3 separate regions of the Homo sapiens genome follow, and all the other regions are linked to region 2. The links come from fine-mapping of genetic effects on gene expression. A gene starts in region 2. Each other region holds a variant in brackets. All regions are shown on one strand. Distances are from middle to middle.

Evidence for each region. PIP is the estimated chance that this variant, and not a neighbour inherited with it, causes the effect.
Region 1: its variant is the best candidate, but not a certain one, in a credible set for the expression of ZNF260 in whole blood (INTERVAL, PIP 0.57).
Region 3: its variant is the best candidate, but not a certain one, in a credible set for the expression of ZNF260 in lung (TOPMed, PIP 0.85).

What each region holds. Positions count from the first base shown.
Region 1 is chr19:36,579,048-36,583,293 of GRCh38, reverse strand. All of the region lies in intron 3 of ZNF529-AS1 (ZNF529 antisense RNA 1), which reads right to left. It also overlaps a transcript of ZNF529 not described here. Among named protein-coding and RNA genes, the nearest start is that of ZNF529-AS1, 7.8 kb to the right of the region's middle. The variant A/TA (reference allele first, on the strand shown) is at 2,474.
Region 2 is chr19:36,525,625-36,529,870 of GRCh38, reverse strand. ZNF260 (zinc finger protein 260) reads left to right here and starts at 1,600. Exons shown (of 3, transcript NM_001166037.2): 1 at 1,600-1,652. RefSeq lists enhancers at 873-1,072, 884-1,592, 1,223-1,852, 1,593-2,303.
Region 3 is chr19:36,504,567-36,508,812 of GRCh38, reverse strand. No RefSeq gene overlaps it. Among named protein-coding and RNA genes, the nearest start is that of ZNF566-AS1, 17 kb to the right of the region's middle. The variant G/A (reference allele first, on the strand shown) is at 2,568.

The DNA of each region.
Region 1 (4,246 bases), 53 kb before region 2:
CTTGAGCCCAGGAGTTCAAGACCAGCCTGCACAACAAAGTGAGACCCTGTCTCTAAATTTTTTTTTTAATTAGCTGGCCATAGTGGTGCCCACCTGTACTCCCAGCTACTTGGGAGGCTGAGACAGAAGAATCACTTGATACTGGTAGGTTGAGGCTGTAGTGAGTCATGATCATGCCACTAGCCTCCAGTCTGACAAAGCAAGACCCTGTCTCCAAACAAACAAACAAACAAACAATTAGATACAGACTTTCTGTTTTTCTATTTCATTTTGAGTCAAGAGTTTTGAGAAGCTGTGCTTTTAAAGGAATGGATGAATTTCATCTAAAATGTCAAATTTATTGGCATAAAATTGTTCATAATATTGCCTTATCATTTTACTGTCTATAGGATCCGTAGTGGCATCTTCATTTTTATTCCTGACATGGGCAATTTGTGTTTTCTATTTTATTAATTATGCTTACTAGGGATTTATCCATTTTTAAAATACCTTCACATAAACTTGTTGTTTTGTTCATTTTCTTAATGGTCTGCTTTCTATTTCTACTTAATTGATTTATGCTCATCTTTTTTTTTTTTTTTTTTTTAAGATGGAGTCTCGCTCTGTCACCCAGCCTGGAGTGCAGTGGCGCGATCTCGGCTCACTGCAAGCTCCTCCTCCCGGATTTAGGCCATTCTCCTGCCTCAGCCTCCCGAGTAGCTGGGACTACAGGCGGCGCCTGCCACAACTCCTGGCTAATTTTTTGCATTTTTAGTAGAGATGGGGTTTCACCATGTTAGTCAGGATGGTCTCGATCTCCTGACCTCGTGATCTGCCCGTCTCAGCCTCCCACAGTGCTGGGATTACAGGCGTGAGCCACCGCGCCCAGCCGATTTATGCCCATCTTTACTTCTTTTTTTTGACTTTTGGTTTAGCATATAGCATGTTTATTATTCTTGTTTAAGCCTTTCCTCATTTTTAAAAATGGTGGCAAAGTATACATGTAACATAAAATTTACCATCTTAACTATTTGAGTATACAGCTCAGCAGCATTAAGTATATTCCCATTTTTGTACAACCAACATCCACAACTTTTTCATCCTGTAAATGTGAAACTATATCCATGAAATAATAACTACCCTTTTCCCCCTGCCCCCAGCCCCTGGCAACCACGACAAGAAACCTACAAACTCTCACTACAAGCGTTAATAGCCTAAAAGTGGGAGACCAGTAATACTTTCTGATTTTATGAGGTGGACTACTCTAGATACTTCATATGAGTGGAATCATAAGTAGTTATCTTTTTGTGATTGGCTTATTAGAATATCCTCAAGGTTCAGCCACATTGTAGCATATGTCAAAATTTCCTTCCAAGGCTGAATAATATTACATTGTATGTATATGCCACATGTATTAGTCTGTTTTGTGTTGCTATAAAGGAATACCTGAGGCTGGGTAATTTATAAAGAAAAATGGTTTATTTAGCTTATGGTTCTATAGGCTGTACAAGAAGCATAGTGCCAGCATCTGCTTCTGGTGAGGCCTCAGGAAGCTTACAATTATGGCAGAAGGCAAAGGGAGAGCTAGCATATCACATGGCAAGAGGGAACAAAAGGGAGAGGGAGGAGGTGCCAGGCTCTTTTAAACAACTAGCTATAGGATGAACTCATATCCATGTGGAGGACACCAAGCCATTCATGAGATCCACCCCATAATCCAACACCTCCCACTAGGCGCCACCTCCAACACTGGGGGTCACATGTCCGTGTGAGATTTTGAGGGAACAAATATCCAAATCATATTACCACATTTTGTTTATCCATTCATCCACTGATGAACATCTGGGTTGTACGTATTTCTTGGTTATTGTGAATAATGCTGCTATGAATTTCTCCTTTTTTTATTTAAGTACTTAACATTCCTCTCAACTCTGCTTTAGCTGTATCCTTCCAATTTTGATATGCTGTTGTCACTTTTTCATATTTCAAAACATTTTCCCCTTATTTATTCAATGATCTGTAGATCTAGAAGTGTGTTATTTAATTTCCATGTATTGAAGGACTGTATAGGTTTCTTATTATTGGTTTCTAATGCACATTCCCTGTAATGTGGCAATCTTTTGAAGTTTATTGTGACTTATGGTCCAGCCAATAGTCTATCATGGGGACTGTTCAGGTACATGAAAAGAATGTAATTTTTCAATTGTGGGTATGGTGTTCTGTAAACAACAATTAGGTCATGTTGACTGGTGTGGTTCATATCTTCTATACAGTTGTCCCTTGCTATCCACAGGGGACTGGTTCCAGGACACCTTGTGGATACCAAAACCTACAGATGCCCAAGTTTGTTATATAAAATGGTGTAGTAGTTGCATATAACCTATGCACAACCTTCTGTATATTTTAAACCATCTCTAGATTTTTTATAATACTTAATACAATGTAAATGCTATGTAAATAATTTTATACTGTATTTTAAAATTTGTATTTTTTT[A/TA]CTGTCATTGTGTTTTTTCTGAATATTTGTGCATTGCTATTGGTTGAATCTGCATATATGAAGAGCTGATTACATATACTACTGAATTTCTTGCCTACAAGTGCTATCAATTACTGAGATATAATTGTGGATTTCCAATTATGCTTGTGGATCTATTTCTTTTGTTCTGTTAGTTTTTGCTTCATAAAATTTAACACTCTCATTATAGGTTCATACTAGCATACATATTCCTGATGAACACAGTCATGTGTCATGTAATAACATTTTACTCAATGATGGACACATATACAATGGTGGTCCCATAAGATTACAATGGAGCTGAAAAATTCCTATCACTTGTGGACGTTGTCATGCAACATATCACTCAGGTGTTTGTGGTGACGCTGCTGTAAATAAACCTACTGTGCTTCCAGTTGTATAAAAGTATAGCACATGCAATTATGTATAGTACGTAATAGGTGATAATAATAAGTGATTACATTACTAGTTTATGTAATTTATTGTACTATTTGTATTATTATTTTAGACTGTACTCCTTCTACTTATTAAAAAAAAAAAGTAACTGTAAAACAGCCTCAGGCAAGTCCTTCAGGAGGTATCCAGAAGAAGGCATTGTTTTCATAGGCGATGACAGCTCCATGCATATTTTTAATCCTGAAGACGACATTCCAGTTGGACAAGATATGGCGGTAAAAGACAGACATATTGATACTCTAGACCCTGTGTAGGCCCAGGCTAAAGTGTGTTTGTTTTTAACAAGAAAGTTTAAAAAGTAACAAACATTTTTAAAACAAAAAAATTTTTAAATAGAAAAAAGCCTATAGAATAAGGACAGAAATATTTTTGTGTTGCTATATAATGTGTTTGCGTTTTAAGTGAAGAGTCACTACAATTCAGAAAGATAAAAAATAGTAAGTTTATAATGTAAAAATATTACAGGAAGCTAAGGTTAATTTATTATTGAAGAAAACTTAAAAAAATAAATTTAGTGAAGCCTAAGTGTACTGCTTGTAAAGTCTACAGCAGTATACAGTAATGTCCTAGTCCTTAGCATTCTCTCACAACTCACTCACTGATGCACCCAGAAATTCAGTCCCACAAGCTCCATTCATGGCAAGTATCTTATACCGGTGTGCCATTTTTTAATATTTTATACAGTATTTTTACTGTACCTTTGCTATGTTTAGATACACAAACACCACTGTGTTATAAATGCCTACAGCATTCAATACAGGTATGCTATATGCTATATAATATGCTATACAGGTTTGTAGCCTAGGAGCAATAGGCTATACCATATAACTTAGGTATGTAGTAGGCTACCCCATTGCTGTTTGTGTTAGTGTGCTCTATGATGCTTGCATGATGCAATCACCTAATAACACATTTCTCAGAATGTATCCCTGTAGTGACAAATGTATATGCAAATTCCTAATGACCTGCTCTTTTATGACTGTTACCTATCTCCTGCCATATACACTGTTTTGAGGCCTATTATCTGATACTACTATAGCCATGCCAACTTTCTTATACTTAATGTGTATCTTTTTCTTGACCAATTTTAAGTAGCTTTCTCAGCTTAGAATTTCTAATTCACACGTGTAGTATTTTTTTTTTTTTTAGACGGAGTCTCACTCTGTCTCCCAGGCTGGAGTGCAACGGCGCAATCTTGGCTCACTACAACCTCCACCTACCGGGTTCAAGCAATTCTCTGCCTCAGCCTCCCGAGTAGCTGGGATTACAGGCACCCACGACCATGCCTGGCTAATTTTT
Region 2 (4,246 bases):
ACAAGGTTAGGAGTTCAAGACAAGCCAGGCCAACATAGTGAAGCCCCGTCTCTACTAAAAATACAACAACAAAAAAATTACCCGGGCGTGGTGGCCGGCACCTGTAATCCTAGCTACTCGGTAGGCTGAGGAAGGAGAATCGCTTGAACCTGGGAGGCGGAGGTTGCAGTGAGCCGAGATCGCGCCACTGCACACCAGCCCGGGCGACAGTGCGAGACTCCATCTCAAAAAAAAAAAAAATCAGGTCCTGGAAAAATAAAGCATTTCAGGAACAAAGAGAAAACTTCAAGGCACCTTAAACATGGCTTTTAGATATCACAACCGTTATTTCCTCTCCTCTGGGGAACCTCTCTTGGAGGACAGAAATGAGAAGGGAGACAATACACCTCCCCTAGGGCCCAAATGACAAGGCCAGAGCTTACTCTGCGTTCCCCTCCCCCGCCATGGGAGGGCTATCAGAGGAAACTGGGGCTTCCAACTCAAAACTCAGTGTCATAGAAAAATCCCCTTTACTATCACGGGGCCGAGCTGTCTTCTGCTCTCACATATGACTATGTGTGACATTTGGTCAAAGACACACAAACACAGTCTCAACTCCACGCACACCCAATGCTTCACAGTCACACACCCACCACTGTACACAAAGTCACAAGCACCCACCCTCCATACTCCCACACAAGGACACAGAGTCACAACTACATAAGTACAAAGCTCCCTATATCTGCACACAAACGAACATATGGTCACAGAGTTACAATCACACACCCACCGCGGGCACACAGTCACAGCTAACCCACACCCTCACACAGCGTTACACAGTCACACAATAACAGTCCTAACACAGGGACTCACGGGACACCCGCAGAGTCCTCCCCACATCCGTACACAAGGTGTCACACACAATCACAATCACACACACACTGTGCTAGGACATACATTCACAAAAACACAATTTCACAACCGCCCTTCTCGGCGCGTTCCGCCTGAACAGACTTAATACTCAGTCTCAACCTCCGCACCGGATTCCAGACGCTTCACCTCCAACCTCCTCCTGATCCTGTAGTCTCCGAGCCGACCCGCTCAGAGGCCAGCACCTGGGTCGCGTGCAGCTCTCCCCCGAGCCGCGGGAGTCGCGAGGGGAGGGGCCGAGGGCGCGGCGCCTTCTGGGAAATGTAGTTCAGCGCCACGCCCGCGATGAGCAAGATGGCGCCCGGCTTGAGCCCAGCCAAAGGGATTACCCTCATTCCCGAACCGTGTCTGAGAGTCTCCTGGGGTTCCTGGCTTAGTATCGCACCGTGGCTGTTACATAAAGTCAGCACAGCGTGTTTAAGCTGATGTTACACCACTACCCAATCCCAGGGATAGAGTAAACTAAGACTAAGGCCTTACACCCCTGCCCCGGCCAGGGAGACAGTCCCACAAGCTCTGGCGGAGGAAAAGTTCGCGCGAAAAGCTGACTCAAACCGCTGAACCTTCTGGGAAATGTAGTCTACCCTCAAAAGAGTGGCACGGAGGACGGGCCAAGATCTCTCGATTCCGTCCGGTTCTGAGTCGGGGCCTGGCCCAGCCCAGGAGACCTCTGGGAGCGCTGCCCGCGGAAGGAGTGCGCAGGCGCGGAATCTCCGACTTGCCATGGTCGTCTTTGTCTGCCGGTGAGTTGGGTTTCGGCCCTGTGGGACTTGGGTTTCTGGACACTGAAACGGGCCAGGGACGCTGGAGGGGAGGATTTGCAGTGCCTGCGACGGGGCTGGGAGTATGGAGGGGAGGAATCGCCTTCTATGATGTGCGGTGATCCGAGCTTGTGTGGCTGGGGGCAGGGGTACAGTTCGGGTGGGTTCGCGGGTGGGTGACCGAGAGTGTGAGGGGGTGTTGAGGGTGCAGAGTTAGTGAGAAACTGGTTCCAAGTTTGTGAGGATGGACGGATGGCTTTGTGAGGTAGTAACCTCTAAGCCTCACTTTTCTCATTTCTAAAATAATAAAGATGCGTTTTCTGGAAAATAGGAAACGGAAAAGGCTAAGGAATTGAGCGGATAAGTAATTTTAAAGGTGATTTTTTATATAAAAGCAGACCTATTGTGGAGTAGAAAACAAAATCAGCATTACCTTTCCATTATTTTTTTAAAGAGGCAAGATTTCGGAAAAACTTGTTACTGGGTGCCTGTACACCCAGTAGGCATTGACTTTTCTTAATACTTTGGAGAAACTTTGGTGCAGTTGCTTGGAGAAACCCTGAACTAAGGAATATCTTTAAGAGGTAGTTTCCAATAGCGCAGACGGCACAGAATTTGGAAGCTACTTGTCCTGCCTTTAGCGCAGAGGTCAAGAAACTCCCTAGTTCGTCAGTGAGGGCAGCAATCTCACTCCTAATTTAATCAGGGTTTCCCCAGCCTTTTGTAAATATAGGGGAAATTCTTTTCTTGTGTATACAAAGATAGAAGTATCCTATCTTCAAGTATCTTGTCACACTTATTCTTAACATATCAACATATTCAAGTATCTTGTCACACTTATTCTTAACATATTTTTCAATAAAATAAAAAAGTAACAGGGTTAATAGTTTTGAAATATACAGAAAAAGTAAAAGATACAAAGAAGACAGGACTTAGTTTCTGCTTTTCCCCTAACTATTGGTGTTTCTAAGTTTCTGGCCTTGATCATCTAAGTACTCCTATCAGCAACAACATTACACTGCCATCCATGGCTTCATCTAATACAGATGACTAATAAATGTCTGTTTCTGCTGGAGGCTTGTCCTGAGCTCCTAATCCATATTATCTAATTGCCCAATGTGCAGTCCACCTGGAAGTTACAGGGAACTTCAAGCTCTTTATGTCTAAAGGGCTCCTTCTTCCTGCAGTCTGCCTCCATCTATTTCCCCTCTGTACCTGTTTCAGCAATTTATAGCACTGTCTAGCCAGGTTCTAAGGCACTTACATCTTAGAGAAGGCTTCTAAGTAAGTTTGATCCTTTGATTTGTTATATCCCATTACAAATTGTAAACCAAGGTTTCTCAGCACACATAATCATAAATGTATATGTTTGCTGAATCAGTGAATGAACAGTCAGCCCTCTGTGTCTGTAGGCTCTGCTTCCACGGATTCAACAAACATGAATCATAACTGTTGTTAAGCTTGCGATGGTTGTATCTGTACGTGTACAGATTTTTTTTTCTTGTCATGATTCCCTAAACAATACAGTATAACAACTATTTACCAGACATTTACGTTGTATTACGTATGATAAGTAATCTGGAGATAATTTTAAAGTATATGGGAGGATGTGCATAGGTTATATGTAAATATACTTCCATTCACTTTATTTTTATTTTTTTGAGATGGAGTCTCACTCTGTCACCCAGACTGGAGTGCAGTGGTGCAATCTCGGCTCACTGCCACCTCTGCCTCCTGGGTTCAAGCGATTCTCCTGCCTCAGCCTCCCAAGTAGCTGAGGTACAGGTGTGTGCCACCATGCCCAGCTAATTTTTTTATTTTTAGTAGAGACAGGGTTTCACCATCTTGGCCAGCCTGGTCTCGAACTCCTGACCTCAGGTGGTCAGCCTGCCTCAGCCTCCCAAAGTGCTGGGATTACAGGCGTGAGCCACCATGCCTGGCTTTATATTTGAAGTATAAGGGACTTGAGCATCTGCAGATTTTGGTATCCACAGTGATCCTGGAACCAATCTCCTGTGATATCAAGGGAAGATTATTATTATAGGACACTTACTATATTTAACTTCTCCTAGTTAATCTAAGTAAAATATTAGTCCTCTAAATTTTTTAGAGCTCTGACCTATAAATACCATCAGAATAATTTCCTGTATTTTTTTCCATATCACTCAAGGTTGGTTACTTCAGACTTATGAGAAAAGTGTTATGGGGAAAAATTATATGCAAAGATGTGACTTCACTCAGGAGCAAGGTCACAAGTGACACCTGCTCGAAGGAACCTATACAGGTTGTGATTGTGGATAACTCTGGCATCTTAGTCTCTCATAGTTTCTCTGTGTAACCTAAATTCTGAAAATAAGGTCCCTTCTGTTTCTCATTTTTGAAATGTTTAGAGCTTTTTTTTTTTTTTCCTTCCTTGAGATGGAGTCTCCACTGTCGCTTAGGCTGGTGTATAGTGGCGTGACCTTGGTTCAGTGCAACCTCTGCCTCCTGGCTTCAAGTGATTCTCTTGCCTCAGCCTCCTGAGTAGCTGGGACTACAGGCATATGCCACCACGCCTGGCTAATTTTTGTATTTTT
Region 3 (4,246 bases), 21 kb after region 2:
TGCTGGGATTACAGGTGTGAGCCACTGCACCCGGCCAAAGACTTTTTTTTTTTTTTTTGGTCTTTTCTTTCTTGGACCTTCAGGCATCTGCTTGGCTCTCTAACAAGTGAATTTTCCTTTCTTTACTGTTCTAAAGCTTTTTAAAATAAACTTCCACTCGTGCTCTGAAACTTGCCTTGGTCTCTTTTTCTGCTTCCCCTCAGTTGAATTCTTTCTTCTGAGAAGGCACAGGCTGAAGTTGCTGTGGTCTTGTATGAATACACCACTGTTAACGGGGTAATTCAGATCTCTGTCACCACTAACTTTATCACAACTTATTCAGACCTTTGACAACATACTTTGACTTTCCGCTTTGTCCTATGCTTTCTTTTAAAAAAAAAAATCACTTTAGGACCAATATTTATCACATAAAATTCTTTCTCATACAAAGTTATTCTCTTTTGCTTTTAACTTGCCTTACCAAAAATGTATCTTCATATTAATAACTTTGTTTACATCTCTCTGTCCTATTGGTTCTTTTCCTTTTTTTTTTTTTTTTTTTTTGAGACAGAGTCTCACTCTGTCCTGTCCACCAGGCTGGAATGCAGTGGCGCCATCTCAGCTCACTTCAACCTCCACCTCCCAGGTTCAAGCAATTCTCTGCCTCAGCCTCCCGAGTAGCTGGGATTACAGGTGCCCGCCACCACACCCAGCTAATTTTTGTATTTTTAGTAGAGACAGGGTTTCACCATGTTAGCAAGGCTGGTCTTGAACTCCTGACCTCGTGATCCACCCACCTTGGCCTCCCAAAGTGCTGGGATTACAAGCGTGAGCCACCACACCTGGCCTATTTAGAGTTTTTATAAGATTTAAAATGCCAAGAACAAACATTTGTGTTCAACAATTCATATTTTGGTTTTTTAATCTTATTTGGTACCAACCAAGACATTTAGTAAGTATCCAGTAATTAAGTAACACAATGGTACGATGTCAAATGACATGAAAAGTCTTTTTATGTCTATCCCATTTACATTTACCTAATTGATTTTTTTTTTTTTTTTGAGACGGAGTCTCGCTCTGTTGCCCAGGCTGGAGTACAGTGGCGCAATCTTGGCTCACTGCAAGTTCTGCCTCCCGGGTTCATGCCATTCTCCTGCCTCAGCCTCCCGAGTAGCTGGGACTACAGGTGCCCGCCACCATGCCCGGCTAACTTTTTTGTATTTTTAGTGGAGACGGGGTTTCACCGTGTTAGCCAGGATGGTCTCAATCTCCTGACCTCGTGATCCGCCCACCTCGGCCTCCCAAAGTGCTGGGATTACAGGCGTGAGCCACGACGCCTGGCCCTAATTGATTTATTTTTAACAATTATACTGAAATTCTGAAAACTGAGATATTAGACAAAGTCACTATTTGAAGTTATTCATGTATCTGATGTGTGATCAATATCCAGAATATATAGAAAATTCCTAATACTCAAAATGAAAGCAAACAACCAGATCAAAAGGGTAAATGACTTAAATAGCCATTTATCCGAAGAAGTTTTTTGTTTGTTTGTTTTTTGTTTTGAGACACAGTCTGGCTCTGTCGCCCAGGTTGGAGTGCAGCAGCACAATCTAGGCTCACTGCAACCTCCGCTTCCCGGGTTCAAGCAGTTCTCTGCCTCAGCCTCCCGAGTAGCTGGGATTACAGGTGCACACCATCGTGCCCGGCTAATTTTTGTATTTTTAGTAGAGATGAGGATTCCCCATGTTGGCCAGGCCAGTCTTGAACTCCTGACCTCAGGTGATCCGCCTGCCTCGGCCTCCCAAAGTGTTGGGATTACAGGCGTGAGCCACTGCACCCGGCCCAAGATTTTTTCATGCGCCAGTGCTTTGCAAATCAAAACTAAAATGTGATTACCAACTCACCCATTAGGATAGCTATTAAACAAAATACACAAAATAACAAGTGTTTACAAGGATCAAAAGAAATGGGAACCTGGCCTGGCGCCGTGGCTCATGCCTGTAATCCTAACACTTTGGAAGGCCAAGACAGGCAGACTGCCTGAGCTCAGGAGTTCGAGACCTGCCTGGACAACATGGTCTCTACAAAATACAAAAAAATTAGCCACTGCAGTCCAGTCTGGATGACAGAGCAAGACTCCACCTCCAAAAAAAAAAAAAAAAAAAAAAAAAGAAATGGGAACTCTTATGCCCTGTTGATGAGGGTGTAAAATGGTGCAGCCACTGTGGAAAAAAATAGAGTAGTTCCTCCAAAAATTAAACATATAGCACTTTGGGACGCTGAGAGGAGGGGATCTCTTTTTTATTTTATTTTTTTGAGATGGAGTCTTACTGTGTTGCCCAGGCTGGAGGGCAGTGGCGCGATCTCGGCTCACTGCAAGCTCCGCCTCCCGGGTTCACGCCATTCTCCTGCCTCAGCCTCCTGAGTAGCTGGGACTACAGGCGCCCGCCACCACGCCCAGCTAATTTTTTTGTATTTTTAGTGGAGACAGGGTTTCACCGTGTTAGCCAGGATGGTCTCAATCTCCTGACCTCGTGATCTGCCCACCTCGGCCTCCCAAAGTGCTGGGATTACAGGCGAGAGCC[G/A]CCGCGCCCAGCCACTTACAAGGGGATCTCTTGAGCCCAGGAGTTCCAGACCAGCCTGGGCAACCTCTACAAAAAATATAAAAATTCGCTGGCTGTGGTGGTGTGCACCTGTACTTTATGCCCCTAAGTCAAACTTTTTTTTTTTTTGAGACAGAGTTTTGCTCTTGTTGCCCAGGCTGGAGTGCAGTGGCATGATTCTACTGCCTCATCCTCCCGAGTAGCTGGGATTACAGGCATACACCACCACACTCGGATAGTTTTGTATTTTTAGTAGAGACAGTGCTTCTCCATGTTGGTCAGGCTGGTCTCGAACTCTCAACTTCAGGTGATCCACCTGCCTCGGCCTCCCAAAGTACTGGGATTACAGGCATGAGGCACCGCGCCTGGCCAGACTTTTTGAGTCTTGCACTGTTGCCCAGGCTAGAGTGCAGTGGTGAGATCTCAGCTCACTGCAACCTCCACCTCCCGGGTTCAAGTGATTCTCCTGCCTCAGCCTCCTAAGTAGCTGGGATTACAGGCACCTGCCACCACACCCAGCTAATTTTTGTATTTTTGGTAGAGACAGGGTTTCACCATGTTGGCCAGGCTGGTCTTGAACTCCTGACCTCAAGTGATCCACCCGCCTCAGCCTTCCAAAGTGCTGGGATTACAGGCGTCAGCCACCGCTCCCTGAATTCTTGATAATGTCATGATAATGTTAGCAGTGGCACAGATCCAAGTTATCCCAAGTTTCCAGCAGTGTATTCACATCAGTCCACAGCAACTTCAGCCCTTGCCACCTCAGAAGGCTGCTCAGGAGGTTGAGGTGGGAGGATTGCTTGAACCCTAGAGATTGAGGCTGCAGTGAGCTGTGGTCTCACCACTGCACTCCTGTCTGGGCAACAGAGAGAGACTCTGTCTCCAAAAGAAAAGAGAAAAACATTAAACCTACAACTACCATATGATTAAACAATTCCATTTCTGAGTATATACTTAAAAGAATTGAAAGAAAGTACTCAAACACTCATGTTTATAGCAGCGTTATTCATAATACCGAAAACATGGAGGCAACCCCAGTGCCTATAGATAGATGAATGGGTAAGCAAAATGTGGTATATACATACAGTGGAATAGTATTAGGCCTCGAAAATGAAGGACATTCTGTAATAGGCTACAATGTGGATGAACTTTGAGCACATAATGCTAAGTGAAATATTCCAGTCACAAAAAGACCATACTATATGATTCCACTTATCCAAGGTACTTAAAGTAGTCAAAATCATAGGGACAGTAGAATTATGGTTTTTAGCAGAGAAGAAGAATGGGGAGTTAATTGTTTAATGGGTATAGATTTTCATTATGACAGGATGAAAAGAATTATAAAGATGGGTGGTGGTGATGGTTGCACAACATTATGAATGTATTTAATACCACTGAACAGTACACTTTAAAATGTCTAAGATGGGGGCCGGGTGCGGTGGCTCACGCCTGTATTCCCAACAGTTTGGGAGGCTGAGGTGAGCTGATCACGAGGTCAGGAGTGCGAGACCAGCCTGGCCAACATATTGAAACCCTGTCTCTACTACAAATACAAAAAAAAAAAAAAAATTAGCCGGGTGCATTGGTGGGCACCTGTAATCCCAGCTACTTGGGAGGCTGAGGCAGAAGAATCGCTTGAACCCAGGAGTCGGAGGTTGCAA